3 separate regions of the Homo sapiens genome follow, and regions 1 and 3 are each reported to be linked to region 2. Evidence: microRNA targets listed by miRTarBase, many of them from high-throughput screens and not tested one by one. Region 2 holds a microRNA gene; each other region holds the end of a gene's coding sequence.
What was found. The annotated mature microRNA hsa-miR-466 reads AUACACAUACACGCAACACACAU and lies in region 2 at 4,236-4,258, shown strand. An mRNA with a match to its seed (bases 2 to 7 or 8) in the 3' UTR can be bound and repressed. Matches are read on the target gene's strand: a 7mer-m8 pairs with bases 2 to 8, a 7mer-A1 pairs with bases 2 to 7 and ends in A, and an 8mer does both.

Region 1: the mRNA of NDST1 is a reported target of hsa-miR-466. Seed matches in the 3' UTR shown: 7mer-m8 at 6,086-6,092.
Region 3: miRTarBase lists RHCG as a target of hsa-miR-466. The part of its 3' UTR that is shown has no 7-base or 8-base seed match.

The regions. Positions count from the first base shown.
Region 1 is chr5:150,552,590-150,560,451 of GRCh38, reverse strand. It overlaps NDST1 (N-deacetylase and N-sulfotransferase 1), which reads right to left. Exons shown (of 15, transcript NM_001543.5): 15 at 2,241-7,239. The coding sequence ends at 7,120. Among named protein-coding and RNA genes, the nearest start is that of NDST1, 48 kb to the right of the region's middle. RefSeq lists an enhancer at 3,175-3,344.
Region 2 is chr3:31,157,926-31,165,971 of GRCh38, reverse strand. It overlaps MIR466 (microRNA 466), which reads left to right and starts at 4,185; the gene lies at 4,185-4,268.
Region 3 is chr15:89,466,262-89,474,123 of GRCh38, reverse strand. It overlaps RHCG (Rh family C glycoprotein), which reads left to right. Exons shown (of 11, transcript NM_016321.3): 10 at 1,261-1,413; 11 at 2,269-2,717. The coding sequence ends at 1,389. LOC105370964 (a long non-coding RNA gene) reads left to right here and starts at 4,852. Exons shown (of 3, transcript XR_932600.4): 1 at 4,852-4,974. LOC112268153 (a long non-coding RNA gene) reads right to left here. Exons shown (of 2, transcript XR_002957725.2): 2 at 4,393-4,970.

The DNA.
Region 1 (7,862 bases), not on the chromosome of region 2:
CCTACAGTCACAGGAAAGTCAGGATCCTCAGCTCAGGGTCTTCACGAATGCTTAGGATAAATGCAGCCAGGCAAGAAATTGATCACCGGCACCTAGGCCTCCTCCAGATCCTAACTCCATAGGAGCTTAAGGGCTGGGTAAAGCAGTGTTGGCCTTCATCGCATCGTCATGTAAGTCTAGCTGCTTGGAGTCCCCCTTTCTGCTTTGTCCATTTCTATTTTTCATTAAGACTTTTTCATTCCACAAATGATATGCAAATGCATTATCCTTGTCTTATATATATTTCAGCCAAGGCTGAAGTCTCCTTTGAAAGTTCCCCTTCTCAGTCTTTCCTCCCCTAGTATCAGTTTGATATGAGACGTCTATCTACAACCCCAGGAAAAATACAAACTGTAGTGTTCTCTTTCCATGATGGTCACATTGTATAAGTCTGTCATAGAAATTTCCCTGGCAGGGCTTGGAGACTGAGCTCATTACTTTCAACTGAATCATCATTACAGTGAATGGATACACTGGAGGTTACCTAGCTGAGACCCTGTGGATGGACATCTAGGTTGTTCCCAGCGTTTTCCTATTGTGAAACACACTGCCCTACACGCATGATCCAGGCTTCTCCAAGGTAACTCCCCACCTCTAGAAGCCCAAACCACTCCTGGGGCACCAGATTTACTGGGTGGACATCCCCGTGGGGGGTGAGGAGGGGCTGATGGGCTGCTACTCATTCAGCCTATTAGAACTGCAGGACTTTTAGGACCTCTGGAAGCAACTGGGCTGGGTTTTCACAATGTGTTTTGAGAAATCTTAGGGTTCCAAGATAGCCTGAGAGACAGGGAGGAGGTGAGCTGGGAAGAGTCCAGAGCTTCACTCCCACTCCAACCACAGAGCACCCCCACCTTTACCTGGTTTTCAATTAAGTGATTCTTTCAAAACAGAATCTCAGCTGTATGTAAATTCAAAAATCCCTGTTGCAGGCTGACCCCTCAGTTGGCACAGTCACCTTTCTGCACCATGCCTCTGGATCTGCTCTTGTCCATGCAGCCTCCAGCTGTGTTCTTGCTGGTGAGGGCCACCTGACCCAAACCAAGCTCCCAGCTGACGAACTGCAAAGAGGGCTCTGCAGGTGCTGCCCTTGTGCCATCAGAGGTGGCACTGTGGTATTTCACTTTGAACATACTGGGTCCTGGGAAGCAGGACTGCCCAGCTGTGTCCCCAGCATGCCCCTCCTCTGTCCCTCAGAAGCTGTGCACATTTCTGGGTACCGTCTCTGACAAACATGGTGGCCTGATTCAGTGTTCCCAAACTTCCCTGAACACCAAGGAGTCTGTTAAAGTACACAGTGCTGGGTCCCACCCCAGAGGTTCTGAGTGAGCAGATTTTGGGGGAGCCCAGGAATGTATATTGTTTAAAGCTTCCCAAGGGGATTCTGAAGGAGCATGTCTGATCACCTGCATTGCAGACACTGGCCTGGGCCCCTACCTGTGAACTCTCCTTCTCCAGGCAAATCTCGAGTCTGGCCCTCAATTAGGCTGTGAGGGCTTCAGTCATTTGTTTTACCCTAAGTTTTCCTGGACAGTGGGGCTCTCCGTATTAATTAGAACCCATAGGAACCATGGATCTGAGTCAGAGTTTCCCACTCTGAGCCAGAGTTACACTGGGCTGCCTCAGTGTACTGGAGGGCTCCTTATAAATTCCTCAGTGTACTGGAGGGCTCCTTAAAGATGTTGGGCCCCACCCCACATCTGCTGGAGCTGAATCTCTGGAAGTAGACCTGGGAATCTGCATGTTTTAGGCAAGTTCTTCAAGTGAGGCCATGGAGTCCAACTCCCTCCATGCGTCTAAAAGGTGAGGGAAATGGGATAAAACAGTAAAAGTGGCTTGCCCCCAGCTACAATATACATTAGTAGCAGAAATTGTTCCAGCCCCCAAGTCTCCTCTCGGTCCAGTGCCCGACACCCAGGGCTTCTGAGCAATCCAGCTTGTCTGAGGGCTTCTATCACCTGAGATGCCCCCTGTGGCTGCCCTAGGATAGGCCTCTGCTGTATCTGGGAAATCTTCCATTTATAACCCAGTGAAAATGATCTGCGTTGACCAAGTCACCATGTGTATAGGTGTGTGCATACATGTGGGCACGTGTGCATGCCTGAGGTGGCAGGGACAAGCGGGCTTTGGCCGTGCATGCAAACACCCCTACTCCACCCTTCCCTGCGGGCCTTGCAAAAAGGTCAGACAGGACCAAGGTGTACAAACAGAACCCCACTTTATTAGCAGTTAGTTCGAGATTGTACATTAATGGAGGAAGGTCTCACCTTTAACACAACCCAAAACGGCTGGTTCGAGAGCCCTCATCAGGCGAACTGGATAGCACCCCCTCTCCCCACTCTCCCCACCCCCCTACAAGGGAAGGAAACCTCTGCCTGCTTCCCCAGTGTGCCCCCCACCCTCTCCAGTCGGCCCTCTCCTCTCCCAGGAAATGACATGAATTTCATGCACAAATTACAAAAGGAGCCCTCTTGCTAATAATAAAAGCTAACACAGTCATAGAAAACCCTCTCCTCCCTCATTCTCCTCCAGGGCCGGAAACAGTAAGAGCAGGAGGGATGAACTTCTTAGGATAAAACGCATCCAGTTTCCCCCAGGTTCCTGGCATTGACCCCACAAAACCCTATGCCAGTCCCTTAGGGAAGCTGAAAACTCGCCAGCCGTCTGAGCTGGCAAGGGCAGCCAGCCCACAGCTGTCAAGCCAGGAACCCAGTGTTGCCTCAACGGCCTGGGCAGCAGGGGGTCTAGGCCGCCCCCTCATCCTCACATCAACTAGAGCAGAGGCTGCCTCCTTTGATGTGTGAAAATCCCTGCTGTGGCCCCTATCTGCTCATTCTACAGATGAAGAAACTGAGGGCCTGGGAGGAAGATGGTCAGGCAGCTACTAAATGCACCCGGCTGGGATGAAACTTCACAGCTCCTGCTGCCAGCCAGGGCTCTTCTCACACCACAGCTTGCGGGAGGCAGTTCCCCATGTAGGCTTTTCCCTGCTGCAACTGAGAGCCTGGCTCTGCTCCAGTGCACACAGACCACGGGTCTCCAGGAAATGAAAACCCTGGGACCCCAAAATAGAAAGAGAGAGACATATGATGTGTTTGGTGCCCTGTGGCCCATCCCCAGGGTCGAAGGCCCAGCCTTCAGGCATGCAGCCTCCTCCTTCCAGAGCCCTGTGTCCTTCCTTCCAAGGCCCAGATATTACGGCCTTCTCCAGGGAGACTTTCCGGCCCCCCCAGAGCTCTTGCTCTAACTGGCCCCTCTGCTGTTTTGGCACTTGGTACAGGTGACAGTGGAGGCGCATCTTAGGCAGAAGTGAAGCTGTCAAGTCAGCACAAAAGGCAAAATCTCATGTAGCCTAAATTATCCTTGAAAGTACAGGGGATAGAAGAAGTGGTTATGCGACACCATGAGCAAACAATCTGACAAATTCAGAATGTGGGGCTTCAAAAAGACAGCAGGCCTAGGGCCTCAAAAACAATGTCATTTAAAAACTCAAAGTGAGCTGAGGGAAGACCTTTCAGCATTCAAAGAGGTTTTAAAAACATAGTTAGAAAATGCAATGTGTGCACCGTGACTGGATGCTGATTCCAAAACCAGACACATAAGTTACCTGGGAGACAATTGGGGGGATTTGAATACAGATTAGATAGCAGACATCGCTGGGAAATGACTTCTCGTCTTGGCTGTGATACTGGGCCAATGTGTAGGACAATGCCCTAACTCTTAGGAGATGCAGGCTGAAGCTTTCAGGGATCAAGTTTCATGATGTTTGCAATGTACTTTTAAATTAGGACAGAGAAAACATATACATACACAGAGAGAGAAAAAGAATGTGGCAAAATGTTAATAATTTTAGATCTAGATGCTGGGGAGTGGGCATTCATAATTAAATGTTTGGTAAAACATTGTTGTATTTGCTTTTCCCACTAACAAGCCCATGGGCACAGCTCTGTGCTGGGACCACCAACCTCTGCAGGTCAGCGCAGCAGCTCTCCTCTGCTGGGAACAGATGGCTTCCTTAGCTGGGCCCAGAAGCACTGACTGCTCATCAGGGGGGCTCAGAAAAGGCCCATTTTTAAACTTCAGACTCATCCTCCAAGCAGCAGGATGCTCCACCACAGAAGGCTCTGGAACTCTGAATGACTGAGGCAGCTGCAGGTGACACTCGCACCTGCACCCACCCTGGGGCAAAGGCTCATGGAGGGGACCACAGAATAGACGATGGAGCCACCTGAACAATTTCAGTTATTTCTCTCTCCTTTTTTTGGCCAAATGCTTAGAGTGAATTAGTGGACATTGAAGACTGGCCTCGCTGGCCCACTCATCTGTGGCTTCTCTTCTCGGGAGGGGGTGTCCTTGTACCCATTAGCTAACAGCCCCCCAGGCAGCTTATCTGCCTCTCCTTCTACCCCCCATACCTGCAAGTCCCGGCAGTGTCTGGACCTAGTGGGTCTTCAAGAAAGGTCTGTTAGTGGGAGGAGAAGTGGCAGCAGTGACCTAGGCAGACAGACTTGGAACATGTGGCAGGTCCAGTCTCCAGGCTTGCAGAAGGGTCCAGGCAAAAATCCAGAAGATCTCTGCTGTCACAGGATTTCCAACCGCCTGCTCCTTCCCATAGCCAGAGGCAGAGAGAAGTGGAGCTCCTGCCCTAGGCCAGCCCACCTCTCCTGCCTTCCATGCTCTGCGAGAGAGGCCTCCAGGCCTAGAGGGTAGATTTCCGAACCTGGGAGCTGTAAGATCCTCACCCATCCCGCAGCCCAGTCCCCTCACTGACGGATGGGACTCTGGAAGTCACTGCCCCTCTCTATAAGCCCCTGGCTCCATGGCGTGGGCATGTCTTCATGAGCACACAAGCAGACATGCCACCCTGTCCTCAGACCCTTTGCTGCTCATCCTGCTGGCCCAACGATGCCCAAGTTCCCAGGCTTGCAGGCCCCATTGAGAGGCATGATGGGGACACTGCTGTGTACACAGTGAAACCACCTGCAGCTGGTCCCACTGAGTGTCCAACTTTCTTCATCCCAGCAGAGAACTGGAGAAAAGGGAATCAGCTCAGAACAGACCCAGGCCCCCACAGGCTGGGGAAGGACCCCTCGAGGGAGAACACGACAGGGATGCAAACGCAGACCTCGGAATGAGAAGGCTCAAAGGCACCCTGGCTGGGAAGGAGTGGTTTGTCCCCATATCCTGGAATGACCATGCTGTGACGGAGGAAGGGACAGGAACCTGGCACAGAGTAGGGTCCCAAGGATGGGCTCAGAGGCAGTGTGGCATTGGAAGAGGAGCACGATGGGACTTGGAACCGGGAGCCTCGGGTTCAACGCTCAGCCCTGCTCCCAGCTGGCTCCATGACGTCGGCCAAGCAGGCCACCTCCCCTTTCTGGACCTGTTTCATACCCGTCAAAGGACCTTCCAGCCCCAAGATGCTAGAGTCTTCTGAACAAGACAAGCCTCTCCAGAAAGTATTTCCTGGGGTTCAGAGGGAAGCAGAATTTGGCAGTTGGAGGGGGCCAGGGAGAGGCACCCCAGCCTCAGTCACTTCACATTGTTAAATGGGGTGGGGTAGGAGCAGACCCCAACCAGAAATCAGCCCAGAGATCCCACTGTCTACAAGGGCCTGGAGACAGTTCTGTGGGCCTTGGTGGGCATCCCAGCTCTCAGGGCAGCTCCCAGCCTAGCACCATGTGAGGGAGAGTGGGTGGGGCAGCTTTTGACCCCAGCTCTCCTAGCCCAGCCCTGGCTGTTTCCTTTGGCCAAAATCCCCTCAGGGTCACTGGACTTCACGCAGCCCGATGTCCTGGAGAGAGCTGGTCTTCCCTGCGCATCTCACCACCTCTGTTCACCTGGGGTAGCCCCAGAGCAGCCACGGCACTGGGGAGGGCCCCTTCCTAAGGTCTGCTCAGCCCCAGGCCACTGAGGACACAGCCTCCCTCCCTGCCACCTCATCTCTAGCTCTAAGACAGGGTGACCCCTGAGACTGGGGCTTACCACCATTTTGTAGGACTGAATTAAAAACGAACCCAACCAAAAAAAATAGAATATATATATATACACATTATATATATATATATATATATATAACACAGTGCGACCCCAGCACCCAGGGTATAAACTCTGGCACCAAGAAAAAAAAAAACAAAATATTAAAATATTTTAGCTTCTTAGTATTTGGGAGGTTAAGGGGGTCTCTGAGAGCCCTCGGCCACAGGTGGCTAAGCAAAGCCGTGGCTGGCAGTCTCACCAGCTCGCCCATGTCTGCCTGGGCCTGAGGCTGGGAGGGTGTGGGGACCGTGTCTGTACATGGGAACATGTTACTGGCAGACCCCTGGCCTGCCTCAGTCTTTTACCACAGGAAACACCACACATCATATCCCAGGGGGAAGAAAGGGGTGCAGGTGGGGCCCGGAGAACTGGGCCCGATGGCAAGGCAGTGCCCCAAGGCCCTGCGGGAAGCCTTGAGGATGGAGTGGATACTGTAGGAACCAGAAATTCTTCCCCAGAACGGGAGGGTGAGATGTGAAGGTAGGAACCAGATGTGGAGGCTGGGAGTCCTCTTGAGGGGGCCACCCTCCCATCCAGCCTAGGACTGACTCCGGGGACCCAGCTGGCCCCTTGGAAGAGCCTGGCTCGAAACAGGGAAATGTCCAGTCTGTCTCCCCCGGCCAGGCTCTCCTCCCCTACAGCCTGGAGGACAGGGACATATGGCAGCGAATACTGAGGGGCGCCCTGCGGAAGCAGGGAGTGATGGGTGACGAGAGGGGACAGTCGGCGGAACACAGTGAGGGACAGAAAAGAGTCTCGTGGACTCCCTCCTACCAGGAAGCGGCCTCCCCAGGAGCAGCTGGGAACGGAATGGACCTCTGCTGGCGAGGGAGGTCCCTTAGGCCGCAGACCCAGCGGTGGGTGCTCCGAGGTGCTTGCAGATCCGCCTGGGTGCTCCCCCAGCCCCACCAGACCTCCACAGAGTATTGCTCATAAGTGCGCAGCTGCCCTGGTCCAGCTTCCCACTCTGCAGGTCTGGCTCAGCGTGTGGTGGGATGTCCCAGCTTTCACAAACGTTCAGTCTGGCTGTGGTGGCCACGGCTACCTGGTGTTCTGGAGGTCCTCTCGTAGCCAAGTGGGAAGTGTCTGGCCCATCTTATACAGCAGCTTGGAGAGCTCGATGTTGTGGTCCCGGTAATAGTCCTTCAGGAAGGCTCGGGACTGTAACGGGAAGGAAAGCTCAGACCTTGTGTACTGACTTAAGAGTGACCTCCTCTAAAAATCGCCATGCTCGGCCGGGCACGGTGGCTCATGCCTGTAATCCCAGCACTTTGGGAGGCCGAGGCATGTGGATCACCTGAGGTCAGGAGTTCAAGACCAGCCTGGCCAACATGGGAAAACCCTACTAAAAATACAAAAATTAGCGGGGTGAGGTGGTGGGCGCCAGTAATCCCAGCTACTCGGGAGTCTGAGGCAAGAGAATCTTTTGAACCCGGAAAGCGGAGGTTGCAGTGAGCCAAGATCACGCGATTGCACTCCAGCCTGGGTGACAAAAGCGAAACTCCGTCTCAAAAGAAAACAAAAAAACAAAAAACCCACCATGCTGCTGGCACCACCCCCCATACACCTCTTATTTATCCACAATCTCCTTCTAAATGGTAGCCTCCAATAGTGAACTCCCAGTTGGCAGGAGCATCAAAATATAGCTCACTAAGTCAAAATTCTTCTGATAGGGAGAGGAGAGAGAATTAATAATCAAAACCCAAGGCGGGCAGGGCCAGGGCCAGGCACGGTGGTTCACACCTATAATACCAGCACTATGGCAGGCTGAGGCGGGAAGATCG
Region 2 (8,046 bases):
AAAATGGACATCAACCAGAACACCTCCGTTTTCCAAGAGGCAGTAAATTGATGGTTGAGAATGGAGGCTCTAGAGTCAAAGCTCAATTTTAAGTCCTCGCTTTGTCTCTTATTAGCTGTGTGGCTTTGGTTGTGTTATTTAACTCTTCTATGCCTCAGCAACCTTATCTGTGAAACGCATATCGTAATAGCACCTACTTCATAGTGTTGTGGGAAAATTAAATGTTTTAGTGTAGAATAAAGCACTTATAAAAGTACTTGGCACATAGTAAGCATTCACGAGTGTCAGCTAATGTTATTGTTGCTGTCATCATCCTTCACTCTCTGCTGTTAAGGGAACAATTAGCCAGGGACTGGTTTACTCAGTGGTATCTGCAGCAGAGCTATGAGGAGAGTGTGGATAAGAGCGCTTGGACGTGCGTGGCTCTCAGGCTCCTAGAATGAAGTGTTTTCTTTCCTTTGATCTCTGCAGGGTAGTGACTGCTCTACGGGCCTCAATAGCTTCACGTGATGTTGATTTCTGTATCTTGTTGGTTATGGCCAGTGTTTCTTCAGGAATTCCACTTTTAGTTGATTATTCAGTGAAGCTGGTAAATATGATTCCCTGCAGCTCCAGGAAGAAGTAATTTCTGGTTTTTGTTATTTTTGGAAAACTTCTTTGTATGCCTCATTGCTGGTTAAATAGACAAGACTTCTGCTTGCTAGATTTCATGAATTTGGGGCTTTCTAGAAAGCAATACATTATGCTGCTTTAAATATTAAGTGTCCTCAGGATGGGGAACATCACACCCTGGGGCCTGTCGTGGGGTGGGGGGAGGGGGGAGGGATAGCATTAGGAGATATACCTAATGTAAATGAAGAGTTAATGGGTGCAGCACACCAACGTGGCACATGTATACATACGTAACAAACCTGCACGTCGTGCACATGTACTCTAGAACTTATAGTAATAAATAAATAAATATTAAGTGTCTTAAAGAATTACTTTAAACTGATTGCCATGAATAGGATTCACTTTATTTCAGAGTCGAAGAAAGCAGTTCATGTTATAACATGCGGTGTCTGAACGCACAAATCAGGTATTCATCTGATTTTGGCCACTCTAGGACTATAAATAAAACCGTCAGTTCATCAGGTTCCAATTTTCTATCTATAGTCATTCTCAGATTTTTTTTTTTTAATCCTGGGATGTTCTTGGGACAATAAAAAAGATTAGCTAAGAGTGACCAAATCCGCACCCTAAATTTAGTACTATGTTACACTGACTACATACTGTATGAGCTTTAAAGCACTGTAACAACTCACAACAAAAGTTATGTAGTAAATTCTGATATAACCTTGAAGTCTCCACCCTAAGGAGGGAGTGCTGACTTTCAGACACTGAGCCCAAGCAAGTGGCCTTTACACTGGTTTAGTCTGGTTTCTTTCTTGCACGGTCCAGGTTTTGCTAACTTTCCTCAGAGAATCCTGAGCCTGCTTTGCTGGCATGTGTTTCCTTTTGTCCCAGTTTTTGTTACTAGTTACCACAAATTCTTAGGCTTTGTGATATACTTCCCTTATATTCCCTTTTAGCACAGCTCCCATAATGTATCTCTGGAAGGTTAAGTCTGGCAAAACTGGCCTTTACTACTTTACTAATTATATATATATATATGAATGGCCCTCATCTGTTTCCTTGGGGTGGGCTATTTTTCTTTTAAGAAAATGAAGATGATTTCCTCTATGTTTTTTGCAAAAATTCATTATGACGGTAGGAGTGAATATGATCATGGAGATAATGATGTTGATGTTAACAATGACTGCACTTCCTACTACCATGCCATCCTCACAACAACCCCTATAGAGAGATTTTTATATTATTTAATATTTAGTTATAATTTATTCATATAAATTATTTGCAAATATAATAATTTATTGAGAATATTATTTGTATATTCCTTTTACAGACAGGAAAATTGAGGCTAAGAGAAGTTAATTAACTTGCCCAAGATTACATCATTAACACATTTTTGAGCTGGAATTGAAACCCAAGTCCAACTGTCTGTGGAGTCCCAGGTTTTAACCACTAAGATAATAAAAATATAAACATTTACAAATGTAATTTTAAATTAGGAGATCAGATGTGCAAATCTAAAGATTGGGTCATGGACTAATTAGGAATCATAATTGTGTGGAAGTAGCTACCGGCTGGAAAGAACTCTAAGGATTCATTTTGTCCACACCCTGAACCCACTCTCCTCTACTGGGCCATGAATTCTTTTAACGACTACTTAGAATTTTTAAATATTTGTACCATTCAAGGATTTTTATAGTCTTCAAATATCTTTTGTTTTCCATTCTGTTTTTCATAATGAAAAACAAAAACTCAGACCTTAATTTTCATTTAACTAAGTTAAGGTGTATTATCTGAGGTTCCTCAGACAACAGTAAGAGATAATAGACAGGAATTAATGACCCCATTCTTGCATTAGTAGCAAGTAGCATTTTAAACTCTTTGGTTGGTTTCTAGGATGTTGGTTTTACATGTGAAACTTGGATGAATGAGCAATAAAAAGAGAATACTTGAAATGTGTATTTCCTGGCTTCTGTGTTGTCGACATTTGGAATGGTGGTTTATTTCCCACAACCCAATTTTAATATATGTTTTATTCCGTGCATCATTTTGTAAACATAGTAGAGGCCCACCACATGGCAATTTGATTGGCATGGTTGAATCTAGTGCTCGTGTCCTGAGGCTTCTGAGCTAGTGTGGAGGGAGGAGTCCTTTGTAACATGTCTCTGATCAAATTATGCTTTCTCTTTAATTTGTTTACAACTCAACAGCACCTTGGAAGCAGCTAGGTAATTTAGATGGCAGGCATAATTTCATATTTCTTAGGTTTATATTCAGGGCCAACTAAAATAAGGCCTTTATTTCCTCTAATTCATTGTAAAATAAGGAGGTCTTGGGTGGGTGTGGTGGCTCATGCCTGTAATCCCAGCACTTTGGGAGGCTGAGGCGGGTGGATCACGAGGTCAGGAGTTCAAGATCAGCCTGGCCAAGATGTTGAAACCCCATCTCTACTAAAAATATAACAATTAGCCGGGTGTGGTGGGGGGAGCCTGTAATCCCAGCTACTTGGGAGGCTGAGGCAGAGAATTGCTTGAACCCAGGAGGCAGAGGTTGTAGTGAGCTGAGATTGCGCCATTGCACTCCAGCCTGGGCAACAAGAGCGAGACTCCATCTCAAAAAAAAAAAAAAGAAAGAAAGAAAGAAAGAAAGGAGGTCTCTGGATCAGAATCTTCCTTTTCAGGATCCTCTGCAAAGGAAATTCCACTGGGGAGGTAGGTACAGCAGCAGTTCCTGACTTTGATATTAGAGTTGTAGAAGCATGAAAAAAATCTCCCTACCCTAAGCATTTTACTCAAGTCATCTTATTCCTCCAATTCTGATATTTCCTACAGCAATTTCCTCAGTATTTACCATCTTGTAATATATGGATTTTTCCAAGCTGACCTTTTGGAAATGAGATGTGATGTAAATAAGTGTACAACTGTATTAAATATATCTTAAAGAAACATGACTTGTGCTTATCTACTTTTCCATTTCTATCATCTGAGGACCGCCCTGAGATCCACTAAGATAGAGTTGTGTTTGGTTGGGATGGGTAATTGTAGAGAAAGGCAGAATAAGCACCAGGGAAGATGAGAGAAGTCAACAATGCCTGGAATTAAGGAAAGGAAAAGGAAGGAGAAATGGGGAAGGGGCAATGAGGAGGATGAGATTTAGAGAAAACCCCTTTTGTTTCTACAGGCTTCCCTGCCATCTCTCCATTCCACATTCATGCCCACAGTTTGTTTTGTGAGTGTGTGTGTGTGTGTGTGTGTGTGTGTACTGGAAGGCATGGGGTAATGAAAACATATTGGCTTAGCTCTGTGACTAACAAGAAAAGTGGTCACTGGTTAAGTTAATGTCTTTGGGCTCTGTGTTCTCATTTGTAAAATAAGGAAAGTGTTGCTTCTAATTCTGAACTTTTGACTCTGATGCAGTTTCTCACTGTGTTCTCTCAAGTTCAACCAGAAAATGAAATGAATCTGAAATCCCTTCAAGTTGTTAAAAATTTGCATATATGTATAACATATGTATTAAGTATACAAAACTTTAAATGTACAACTTTATGAACTTTTATATGTGTATATTTGTATGTGTGTGTATATGTGTGTTGCATGTGTGTATATGTGTGTATATATGTACACATACACATACACGCAACACACATATATACATGCACACACCCACGTAATGGCACCTAGATCAAGATACAGAACATTTACAACACCACAGCCTTGCCTATTCTCAGTCTGTTTTTTAACTTCGTATTGATATTCACGGTCATAATTCACAAATGGAATCATCATACCTTATGTCTTCCTTTAGGTCTGGTCTTTTTTGCTCTTTATTGTACTTCTAAAATTTATCTATGTTGTTCTATTTAGCAATCATTTATCCTTTTTCTTGCTGAGTAGTATTCTGCTACCCATAATATACCATTGTTTATCCACTTTATTGTTGATGAACAATTGGGTTGTTTCTAATTTTTGTCTATTTTGAATGAAGCTTCTATGAACATTCTTGTCAAAGTCTTCTGGTGGACATATGTACTCATTTATTTAGGGTATATACTCAGGAGTAGAATTACTGGGACATGGTTTTACATTTAGTTATAGGAAGAGCTACCAAATAGTTTTCCAATGTGATTGTGCCAATTGACACTCACTAATGATCAGAGTTCCCTTTGTTCCACATTCTCACTAGCACTTGGTATTCTTTTATTCGATGTAAAGACTATTTTTTATTTGGTCCTTCATTCACTTTTATTAAGAAAAAATATTAATTGAGTGCTTATGTTATAGCAGGCCCTGTGCTATGGAGAGGTTATTGTTCTTACTGTCATAAACCTAATGTTTGAGTTAGGGGCCCACAGACTTGTTCAACTATACTTGAACAACACAGACTTCTGCGATCCATTATATGCACATGTACAATACAAAATTTTTTTAGGTACTGTATGTTGGAGAGGGAACTTCTGCCTGAATTCTAATTTGGTAATACACTGCAGGGAGGAGCATCTACCTTTTTGTCCATTCTTCCATTCTGCTTCCTGGCTCCGTTGCAAAGGAGAAGTTGTAGATCTGGCTGGTTAAAGCCTAAAGCATTCACTAAGAAGCATCACTGGTGCAATTTCCAGGCTTCAAATGGCTTGCAGCTCTTTTCTGAAATCTTTCTTTCACTGTCTGTCTTCTACATAGAAGGTGCGGCCACAACTTTCAGAAGATCAGAGAAGGCGTATGTGAGGAGGAAAGAATTTAGCTGGGTCTTGAATGATGAGTATACCCACTGGATGAAGAAGTTGGGTATAAGTATTCTGGTTAGAGAAAAAGAAAAGATAAAGACAAAATTGTGACTTCCAGGGACTGTTGGTGATCTGGTTAGGTTGGAGTGTAGGATTTGAGACAGGTATAGTAAGTAAGGTATGTGGCCACAGAGGTAGAAAATGGATAAATCTCCAGTAGTCTTTTATGATATGCAAAGAATGTTCCCTGTTGGTGGTGAGGCTACTGTGGGGATTAACCAAGATAGTGATATTATGGCATTTTCTATATTAGAACATTTTTTGTATTATTAAAATATGTCCTACATTCTGAAAAATAAAGCTGAAAATGCTAAGTAATATGTGTCCTATTTCTAACAATTGTGGAGTAGATTCAACACTATTCAGTTGTTACACAGAAAAGTGCTATTTGAAAATGTTGATTACTGAGTCCTCTAATTATCAGCATCCTACTGAGTAGTGGGCTTGTTAATACCTCAAGAGTAAGGGCTATGTCTCTAGCCTCTTACATCTTATAAATTGAAGACATTTCAGAGTAATCTTAAGTCCAATGTTCTCATTTTACTTATAGAGATTGATGCTTATTTATTGTATCTCCAGCATCTCCAGTTCAGACTGCCCAATTCTCTGGATGCACTCCAGGGTTTGTGCATCCTGGCATTGTGACAGGTTGGGCTAGATCATGGCAGATGGATAAGAAAGCTAAGCATATCTGAAAGTCAACATCTGGGGTAAAAGTGAACTGAAAAATAACATAGACTATCCCAATAGAGGGTCAGTTTAAAACAGTTGTGCAAGGAGTCAAGGTCCAGGTCAGAAGTAACGAGACAGAACTAGAGACCTCAAGGCAGGATGGGGCTGATTCTGAGACATCTATGGAGGTATGAAACACTGAAACCAGAGTCTTGTTATAGAGGAATGTTGGTTATGGTCATAATCATTGATGGGAAGAAAGTCCTGAAGTATACGGCATCAGTTATTTTTTTTAATAGGTAAACATTACTTGATTGCCATGAGGATGGCTAAAGTCCAATCTTGGTATGCCAAAAAAAAAAAAAAAATGCTGGACTGAATTAAATCAGCTGATACACTGTGTTGCAACTGAAACCAATAACTGTAAGGAGTTGCATATGAGCTAGGATATCCTGTTGCAAGGAACAGAAAATTTAATTTCAATTGACCTTTTCAGTGAAAGAGATTTATTACTTTAGGAACCTGAGCATGCAGAGGCAATAACGCGTCCATGATTGGTTGATCCAGCAGTTTGAGGGTAGCACTATGGATTTAGTTTCTTTCCATCTCCCTTCTATGGCTCTCACGGTGTCATTTTCCTCCTAAGTCTGGTTGCCCTCATGGCTTTAAGATGGCTGTCATAGGCATTGGGATAATACGGTTTCTGTTCAATGCTGGCAGGGTACAGCGGGTTTATGGCCCAGCTTTCTGAGCAAGAGTCCTACAATCAACCTTGATTGGCTTGCACAGGTCACAGGCCCACCCTTGAACTCATGCTTGAGTAAAACCAACCAGGGACCACTATTGGAGTGAGGGGGAAGTTTGAGCTTATTCTGAAATAATATGGGATGCATGGAGAGAGGTAGCTATTCAAATAATATCTGGGGGCTATTAAAAGAAAGACATGAAATGTATTGGGTGGGTAACCAACTGTGTCAATTATAAGCAAGAATACTTGACATAAACTGAACTTCTGGATGCCACTTGCCGAGAATCTAGACCCCCAGCACTAGGGTTACTAATTCAGTATCTCTGCATTTGAGTGCATTTCCCCTATTTATGTGACAATAAAACACTTTTGGGAACCACAAGAATGCATGACTTTAGAAAAATTTTTAAAATTTTCCATGAATTCTTTTCCTTTATAACAATACTATTAGTACATGTTTATAACCTAAAATTTAGAAAATACAGAAAAATGAAGAGGACCATTTGAAATATTTTTCTTTCTTCCATGGGAAATGCGTGTATTTCCTAAAGAGGGATGGTATTGCATTTGTTAAGTGGAAGTACTGAGCATGAGCTTTGAAAAATCTATTATGCTCCTTTCTGATGAATGCTTTACATTTCATTAGAATTCCTCTACATCTTCAGAGCAATTTTGGGATACTTGCCAGCAGTTAATGGTCTCTCTGTACTATTAACACACAGGGACAGAGGAGCTTTGTCATGTCATCACCAAGACTGGCTTTATGGAGAAAGTCATTAATCAAGGCAAGCAGGGCATTTTGCAAATATCCAGGCCTGGCGAATCCAACCACCTCAACTGAGGAAACTTGTACCTGGAAGAATCTAAATGTGACTCAGCCCTCCCTGGAAATGACTGAGCTTCAGCCTGAAGGACTTCGTTACCTGAGGGAAATCCTTATGGATCAGGCTTGAATTATTTTTATTTACATGCTTTGTTGAAGGTGAGCTTGTTTTCCTAAACTTGTATGCTCAGCTGTTCACCTGAACCCCTGGACTGGAGGGACTGTTGACACTCACAGTTCTCTGGATGGGTCACCACTTGCCCTGCCAGCACCGTGCTCTCACCTTGTTGGAAGGAAGTTTAAATAATACAGAGAAGATGTCATAGAGGTGATGAGTTTTAAATGAGCATATTATGATAACAAAAAATGTTCCAAATTTCTATAACCTTCAATGCCTCTCAAGAAAGATTT
Region 3 (7,862 bases), not on the chromosome of region 2:
TTCACCCAATTTAGTATCCGTCTCTTTCTCCTTACCACTCTATCATAAGAATTGTTCTGTGTTATTACATTCCTAATAAACTTTCTTTTCTCACAGGATAATTATTTCTATTCTATATTTAAGAAAGTCAGAACTTAAACTATTTTAGACACCACAATTAGAAACCAACAGATTTTACGCTAACGAAATAAATCAGAAATGTTATCAGTTCCCCCATGTAGAAGTTCCCTCTTGGTTCTGTTTTGATCTTTATAATTTATTCCAAGTTCACACCTCTCAGCTCTATATACCTTGAGCAGTACAGACGTCCCCCAGTAACCTCAGGGGATTGGTTACAGGATCTCTTGCGGGGATGCTCAAGTCCCTGATATAAAATGGCATAGTATTTGCATAAAAGCCTACATGTATCCTCCCACATATTTTAAGTAATCTGTAGATTACTTGTAATACCTAACACAATGTAAATGCTGTATTGTTTTTTGTTTTTATTATTTTTATTGTTATATTGTCATTTTTTGTTGTTGCTTTTTCTAAATATTTTCAACCTGTGATAGGTGTAACCTGCTGATACAAAACCCATGGGTATGGAGGGCTGGCTGTACCTGGTTGGGAATAACAAAATTCTGTGCCAATGGAAGGAACACTATCAGGCAGTCCCTGAGGCCCTGAGTGGTTTACCTTGGGAGTGAGGTGGCTTCTCAGAGGATGGGGATTGGACCAGTGTTCCCCAGGACCACAGATGGGGCAAGGGCAGGGCTGACCTGCCCTGCCTGCCCTCCACCTCTCTACCCACTTCTGGCCTTCCCTGCACCTTCCCCACCCCATTTTCGGACCTGTCTGCAGTTTACAGAGCTTGCCATACTACCTTTTACCGCCTCTGCCCCTTACTCCAATTCATCTTTTAAAAGTGGGTTCAGCACAACTTCTCAGCATCCCCCAGGCTGGGTTATAAGCCTGTTGTGTGCATTTGCAACTCTTACTGTCACTGGGTATTTCACTGCAATGCCTCACCATTGCTCTCATGGGGCAAGGACACTGTCTCCTCCTTGCCATGCCTCAGCACCCAGGACAGTGCCTAATATAGGGTAGGGGCAGGACTCCTGTGTTGAAGGACCACCCTGCTCTCCGTGGCATGTGATCCGCACGGCGATCACAAGGTGGCGCTCGCCACACACCATTTGCAGCTCCAGGTTCTAGTCACCAGGGACACCCTTGCCTGGACTGGGACAGGGCCCTCAGAGTTGCATCCTCTCTCTGTAGATGCCTGAAGGGAACAGCACTGTCTACATCCCTGAGGACCCCACCTTCAAGCCCTCAGGACCCTCAGTACCCTCAGTACCCATGGTGTCCCCACTACCCATGGCTTCCTCGGTACCCTTGGTACCCTAGGCTCCCAGGGCAGGTGAGGAGCAGGTGAGCATGGGCTTGGCTTGGGGGATGACAGGGAGGTTCTCCCAGTGGGGGCCCAGCTCTCAGAATCAGATGTTACTAGCAAAGAGGCAAAAAGCAAACATCAAGAAATGAGGGCTTCCACCCCTCCTGCCTGAGGTGCAGTGGGCACATGGGGTTGGCAGGGGAGCTTCTTAGAGTCAGACAACGTGCATCCAGGACAGACACAGGAACAGGTGAAGGCACAAGGGCCTGGAAGGAATATGGAAGGAGACCTGGGGGCACACTTGGCTTTGTGACTGTGCCTGCTGGTGTGTGACTTTGAGAATCTCTTCACCCCAGAGACTGGGCCTCGATTTCCTCATCTATAAAAATGAAGCTGACACGTCTGGTTGTATTCAGTTGCTCAGCTCAGATGAGACCCACCCTCCCCTCTTTCTTTCCGTCAACTAACACTGTGCCTCCTCTGTGGAATGCACCAAGCCCTTGCTCATGGCTTTCACATCTAACCTTCCCAAGATCTCTACAAGGCAAGTAGAATTACTGCCCTCATTTTAATAGATGAGCAAACTAAGGCTCGGAGAAGTTCAGGTTCTTCAAGATCACACAACTAGCAAGTGGAGAAACTGGGGTCCTTGCTGGTCATTGTTACTGTTTTTATTATTGTTATTTAACTTCCTTGGAGGCCAGAGCTTGGCAATAGCTGGGTCTGGGGCCTGAGTGATGTGGCAAGAGAGGATGTTAGGGTGCCAGGAAAGAGGAAGGTGAGGCTATGCCCAGTTGCCTTTAATGTCCACCCCATCCAGAAAAGAAAATGGTGCCTGAGAGGCTACAGCAGGACCCGGCAGTGACCCGCTGCTCTTGGCTGTCTCCCTGCAGGCTCCACAGACTGTCCTGGGGCCCAGAGGAGCTGGTGCTGACCTAGCTAGGGATGCAAGAGTGAGCAAGCAGCACCCCCACCTGCTGGCTTGGCCTCAAGGTGCCTCCACCCCTGCCCTCCCCTTCATCCCAGGGGGTCTGACTGAGAATGGAGAAGGAGAAGCTACAAAGTGGGCATCCAAGCCGGGTTCTGGCTGCAGAAGTTCTGCCTCTGCCTGGGGTCTTGGCCACATTGGAGAAAAACAGGCTCAAAGTGGGGCTGGGACCTGGTGGGTGAACCTGAGCTCTCCCAGGAGACAACTTAGCTGCCAGTCACCACCTATGAGGCTCTTCTACCCCGTGCCTGCACCTCGGCCAGCATCTCCTATGCTCCCTGGGTCCCCCAGACCTCTCTGTGTTGTGTGCGTGGCAGCCTCCAGGAATAAACATTCTTGTTGTCCTTTGTAAAATGGTGTGAATGCTCCAATGGGGCCAGTTTGAGGGAGAAAAGGACCCAAGAGACCTGCTTCTGCCCCAGCCCTTACCTTCATCCAAGGGTACCACCCACACTGCGAGGAAAGTCATTGCAGGCTGAACAGGCAGAACTTGGGTACTAGAGCCTGCCTTCAGCCTGGGGCACCCAGCAGGGCTCAGCTCTGGGCTGGGGTCTTGCTTCAAGGCCCCTCCATCAGCTACTCCAGAAACTCAGCCCTTGAGAAAGCTGGCATCTCTGTTGTGCCCTCCATGTGGTCCTGCTCTGGGCACTCCAGCAGGACTGCGAGAAGGGAGGGAGGGCTCCTTTGGGCCCATCTCCTCCTCCCCATCCCTTCCCTTCTTTCTCTCTGCCAAGCCAGCCTTCTTTTCCCTGGACAGTGGGGTAAGGTTTCAGGAGGGTAGATCTCCCAGGCTCACCACCACCCTGGGCAGAGTAATACACCTTCCTGCCCTCAGGGGCTCACAGTCTAGCTGGGAGACAGACCTGACCCTCAGAATCCATGCTGAACTCTGACAGGTGTGGCTGGACAGGAAGTCTGTACCCAGTTGGCTTCTCAAAGCAGGGCCACCTGAGCAGGGTTCTGGAGGCTGAATAGGAGTTTACCAGAAGGATGGCAAAGAAACAGCATGGGCACAGACCCATGGGTAGGAATTAACACGGTGAAGTCTGCTACTGGCTAGAAGAGATGTGAGGCAGAAGTGTGCCAGTTGGAGAATAAGACTTGGAATCCGGATCTTTTGTGGAGCAAAGGCTCCTGGGAAGAAGGGGTGAGGGAAAAGGGAGGAGGTCTCTCAGCTTCCAACTCCGCCCTCCCCGCCCCCTTGCAATTCACACACACACACACACACACACACACACACACACACACACACACACACACACACCGCTGCATGCCTCTTACCAGTGCAGGGGGGAGGGGAAGGAGGGATCTGAAATGCAACCTATTCATGTACCCGCGATGTAACACCCCTCATTTTCCATGCTGGGTAAAGACAAAAACCCTTTACAACCTGTTTCTGGAACTTGTCAGCAGCTGCCAAGAGGAGCATGTTAATTAAACGTCGGCAAAGATGGAAGCCGGAGACCCTGGCTCTAATTGGACAGTTTGCTTCACCGGATTGAAAAACATTGTGACAAAGGAGAAGGTGCGCGGCGCTCGGCAGGGGTGCGGCGTGGCGGGGAGGGAGCTGTGGCTTTGATTTCAGCTGATCTGAGCCCCAGCCTCCCTCCCCCAGCAGAGCCGCTTGGCCCAGCCCCATATGCCTATGAAGGGCCTGGGAGGGGCCCGCAGCGTGAGAGGGTGCAGGGTGGCGTGGGGGGCGGGGTGCGAAGGGGTGCTGGGGGGGTGGTTCCTGAAGCCCACCTCCCACCCCTCCCACCCCAATCCCAGGCACCACCAGGCCAACAGTATTGGGCCCAACCCAGAGCCAGGCTTTTAGGGCTCTGGGGCTCACCCCTCCTCCTGATCACATGACCTGGGTCCTGGGGGCTGCACAGGGAGGGGAGGGGGCCAGCGCTGGCTTCCAACTCCCTCCTGTGCAATGTGCAGGCTACACTAAGAGCCTATGCCCACCGCGTCTGTTACCAGTTGAGGATAGTTGTCCAAGTTCTTGGCATTTTGAACAAAGAATTAGACCAAATGCACAAAGCAAGGCAGCAAAAGCAGAGATTTATTTTAAACGAAAGTACACTCCACAGGGTGGGAGCGGGCTCGAGCAAGAGGCTCAAGAGCCTGGGCTACAGGATTTTCTGGGGTTTAAATACCCTCCAGGGGTTTCCCATCTGTTCACTCTATGCACATAAAGTAGTGGCCCGCAACCAGTCTGATTGGTTGCGGGAGGGAACCAATCCGAGGTACTTTCATTTCCAACTGCCAGGCAGCAACTGCCATGCAGAAAAAGGAGGGGTTGAAAGGGAGTAGCCTCTGATATCCAGTCAGCATGCATCGAACTTAGGTTCCCTGCCTCCAGACCCTATTCTCCTGCCTCATTTCCCCCGAGAGACATGATCCCCAGAAATCTTTATGGGAGACAGAGTGACTGATGGTCTTTCTTCTGTAACTGCGTCACCCTGACTTGAGGTGCAGTCCCTACCTATTGGGGATCCCCGAACTCCTGCCTTTATCTATCGAGTGGAGACTGGGTAGTTTCTTGATGGCCAGGGGTGCTGCCTTCATTTGGAACAGGCTGGAAACCTTGTCACAGGATCATCTGAAACTTGATGGTCTCTAGGTGAGAGGAAATGAATTTGGTTAAAAGATTTAATGGGAACTTCAGGGGGTGGATACCTATGCTGTCAGGAATGTTTGTTATAGGAATGAATTACAACAGTCTGCTTAGTCACTACAAAGGAAGTGATTCCAATCGTTTGAAAGAAAGCACCTAAACTGCAAGAAATCTGAGAACATGGCTGCTATTATCCAGCCTACAGTAACTATGCAACAAAAACACCAAGGAAAGTTGGTAGGCATTTACTTGTCTTTTGACTGTCTGATGGAAACTTCAGGCTCCTGGTCCCTGGCTTCAGGTATCACAGACTTGATCCTTGAAAGATGTATCCAACTATCTAATCCTAGTACCTTGACCATAGAAGGCATAGCCAGTACCACTAAAAACGGTCCCTTCCATTGGGGTTGCAATTGTTGAGCAGGTGATCCCTCCTTCTATGTTTTAACAAGTACCTTATCCCTTAGCCTGATTTTGGGTTGCTGGTTAGTTCCCGGTATGGTGGGGCCTTTGAGTTCCAAACTTTTGTAAAGCCTGCTGAAATTGTCTTAAGTTAACTAGGTATCTTGCTAAACTGGCTGTTTCTGGATCAGTAATTAAATCACTAGTTAAGAATGGCCTTCCATATAACATTTCATAGGGGGTTATATTAATTTTTGCTCTAGGGGTATTACGGATCCTTAAGAGGGCTATAGGCAGTAAGCTGACCCAAGTTTTTGATGTTTCCTGACATAGTTTAGCTAACACTCATTTTAGAGTTTGGTTAGCCATTTCTACTTTCCTGGAGGATTGAGGCCTCCATGCTGAATGTAAATAGTATTTGATTCCAAGAGCCTTAGCAACCCCTTGAGTTATTTGGGAGATAAAAGATGAGCCATTATCACTTTGGAGGCTCTGAGGTAACCCAGACCGGGGGATTATTTCTTTTAAGGGAAACTTTATAGCCTCATTAGCCTTCTCTGTTCTGGTAGGGTAAGCTTTGACCCAACCAGTAAAGATATCTATTAGCACTCACAAAAACTTGTATCCTCTGCAAGCTGGCATATGGGTGAAGTCTAATTACCAGTCTTCCCCTGGGTAAGTTCCTCTCCTCTGGTCTGGTTCTATTAGAGGAGGCATTTTGTTTCCTGGGTTAAGTGCACACAGTGAGCAGGCTTGACAGGCCTGCTTAACCACCGAAGTTAAGTTAGGCCCAATGAAGAGCCTGTTAACCATGGCCAGGGTGGCATCTCTCCCCATATGGAAGGAGTCATCCAGGGTTTTTATAATTCTCCATTGGGCTGTTTGAGGCAGATGTATTTTTGATCTCATATACCACCAGGATCTTTTTTTTTTTTTTTTTTTTTTTGCCCCACTTGCTCCTTTATTAACTGTTCTTCCTGTAGTGTGTATTTGGGATCCACTGGGAATCATAGAAAGGAATCAGTGCTAGGATCTGTTGGGATTGCACCCTGAGGGATGTGGCTTTGGCTTCTCTATCAACCTTTCTGTTCCCTTGTGCTATAGGAGTTAAGTCCCTTTGATGCCCCCTACAATGGATTATAGCTATGGCCTGTGGCAGGTGTATTGTTTACAATAGCTGAAGAATTTCAGGCCCATGCTTTATGGGGGAGGGTTTGCTAGCTAGTAGTCCCCTTTCTTTCTAGATTGCAGCATAAGCGTGAACCACAAGGAATGCCATATTTAGAATCTGTATAGATGTTAAGCTTTTTATTTTGTCCCAAAATTAATGCTCGGGTAAGAGCAATGATTTCAGCCTTTTGTGCTGATGTGCCAAGGGGCAGTGGCTGGGCTTCGATAAGGGTGTTGTGATTGACTATTGCATACACAGCTCAGTGTTCCCCATTTGACACAGAACTGCCATCTGTGAACAAGTCCTCAGAATCTGGGAGAGGCTGATCTTTTAAATTAGGCCAGCTAACATATGCATGTGCAATGACTGGCTCGCAGGAATGATCTGTCATTGGGCCTATGGGTATCAATGAAGCTGGATTCAAAGTGTTACAGGTTTTAAGGGTTACATCTGGATTGTCTAGGAGCACGGCCTGGTATTTGGTTAACCTTTCCCCCATCACCCAGATGTGTCCTTTTATCTCTAAGACTGACTTTACCTGATGGGGGGTTAGAACTTCCAGTGATTGGCTCAGGGTGATTTTAGTGGCTTCCTCCACTAACATAGCAATGGCTGCTGTTACCCACAGGCAACTTGGCCATCCCAAGGCCACTCTCTCCAACTTCTTTGAAAAGTAGGTGTTTGGTCTGGGTTCTGATCCTAATTTCTGGACTAGCACTCCCACAGCTATGCCATTCGTCTCTGCTACATACAAGGGAAGGGCTTAGTTAGGTCTGGGATCCCAAGAGCTGGAGCCTGGGTAAGGGCCTATTTTAGCTTGGCACAGGCTTCTCTCATTTCCAGGGTCCATTCCATTAGCTCATTTTCAGGCCTCCTTGTTGCTTCATACAGGGGCTTTGCTATGAGCCCTAAATTTGGTACTCATATTCCACAAAACCTGGCCATTCCCCAAAAAGAATGAAGCTGCTGCTTGGGGTGGAGGGGCCCAAACCACATATGGCTTGCACTCGTTCTGGGGATACTTGCAGGTTCCAGGTGTTAAGATGTACCCTAAACAGTGGACCTGTTGGAGAGTAATCTGAGCCTTCTTTTTGGACACTTTGTATGACCTGTCAGCCGGGAAATGTAAGGTTTTTATAGTATTTTGGTCAGAAGCCTCTTGGGTTGGGCTATACACAAGAAGGTGATCCACATACTGGAGTATACTCCCATCCTCCAATTGCAGACCCCTCAGATCCCTCTCTAAGGGTTGGGCAAAGAAGTGGGGGCTATCCCAAAAGCCTTAGGGGAGCACTGCCCAAGTGTTTTTCTCTGGTATTAG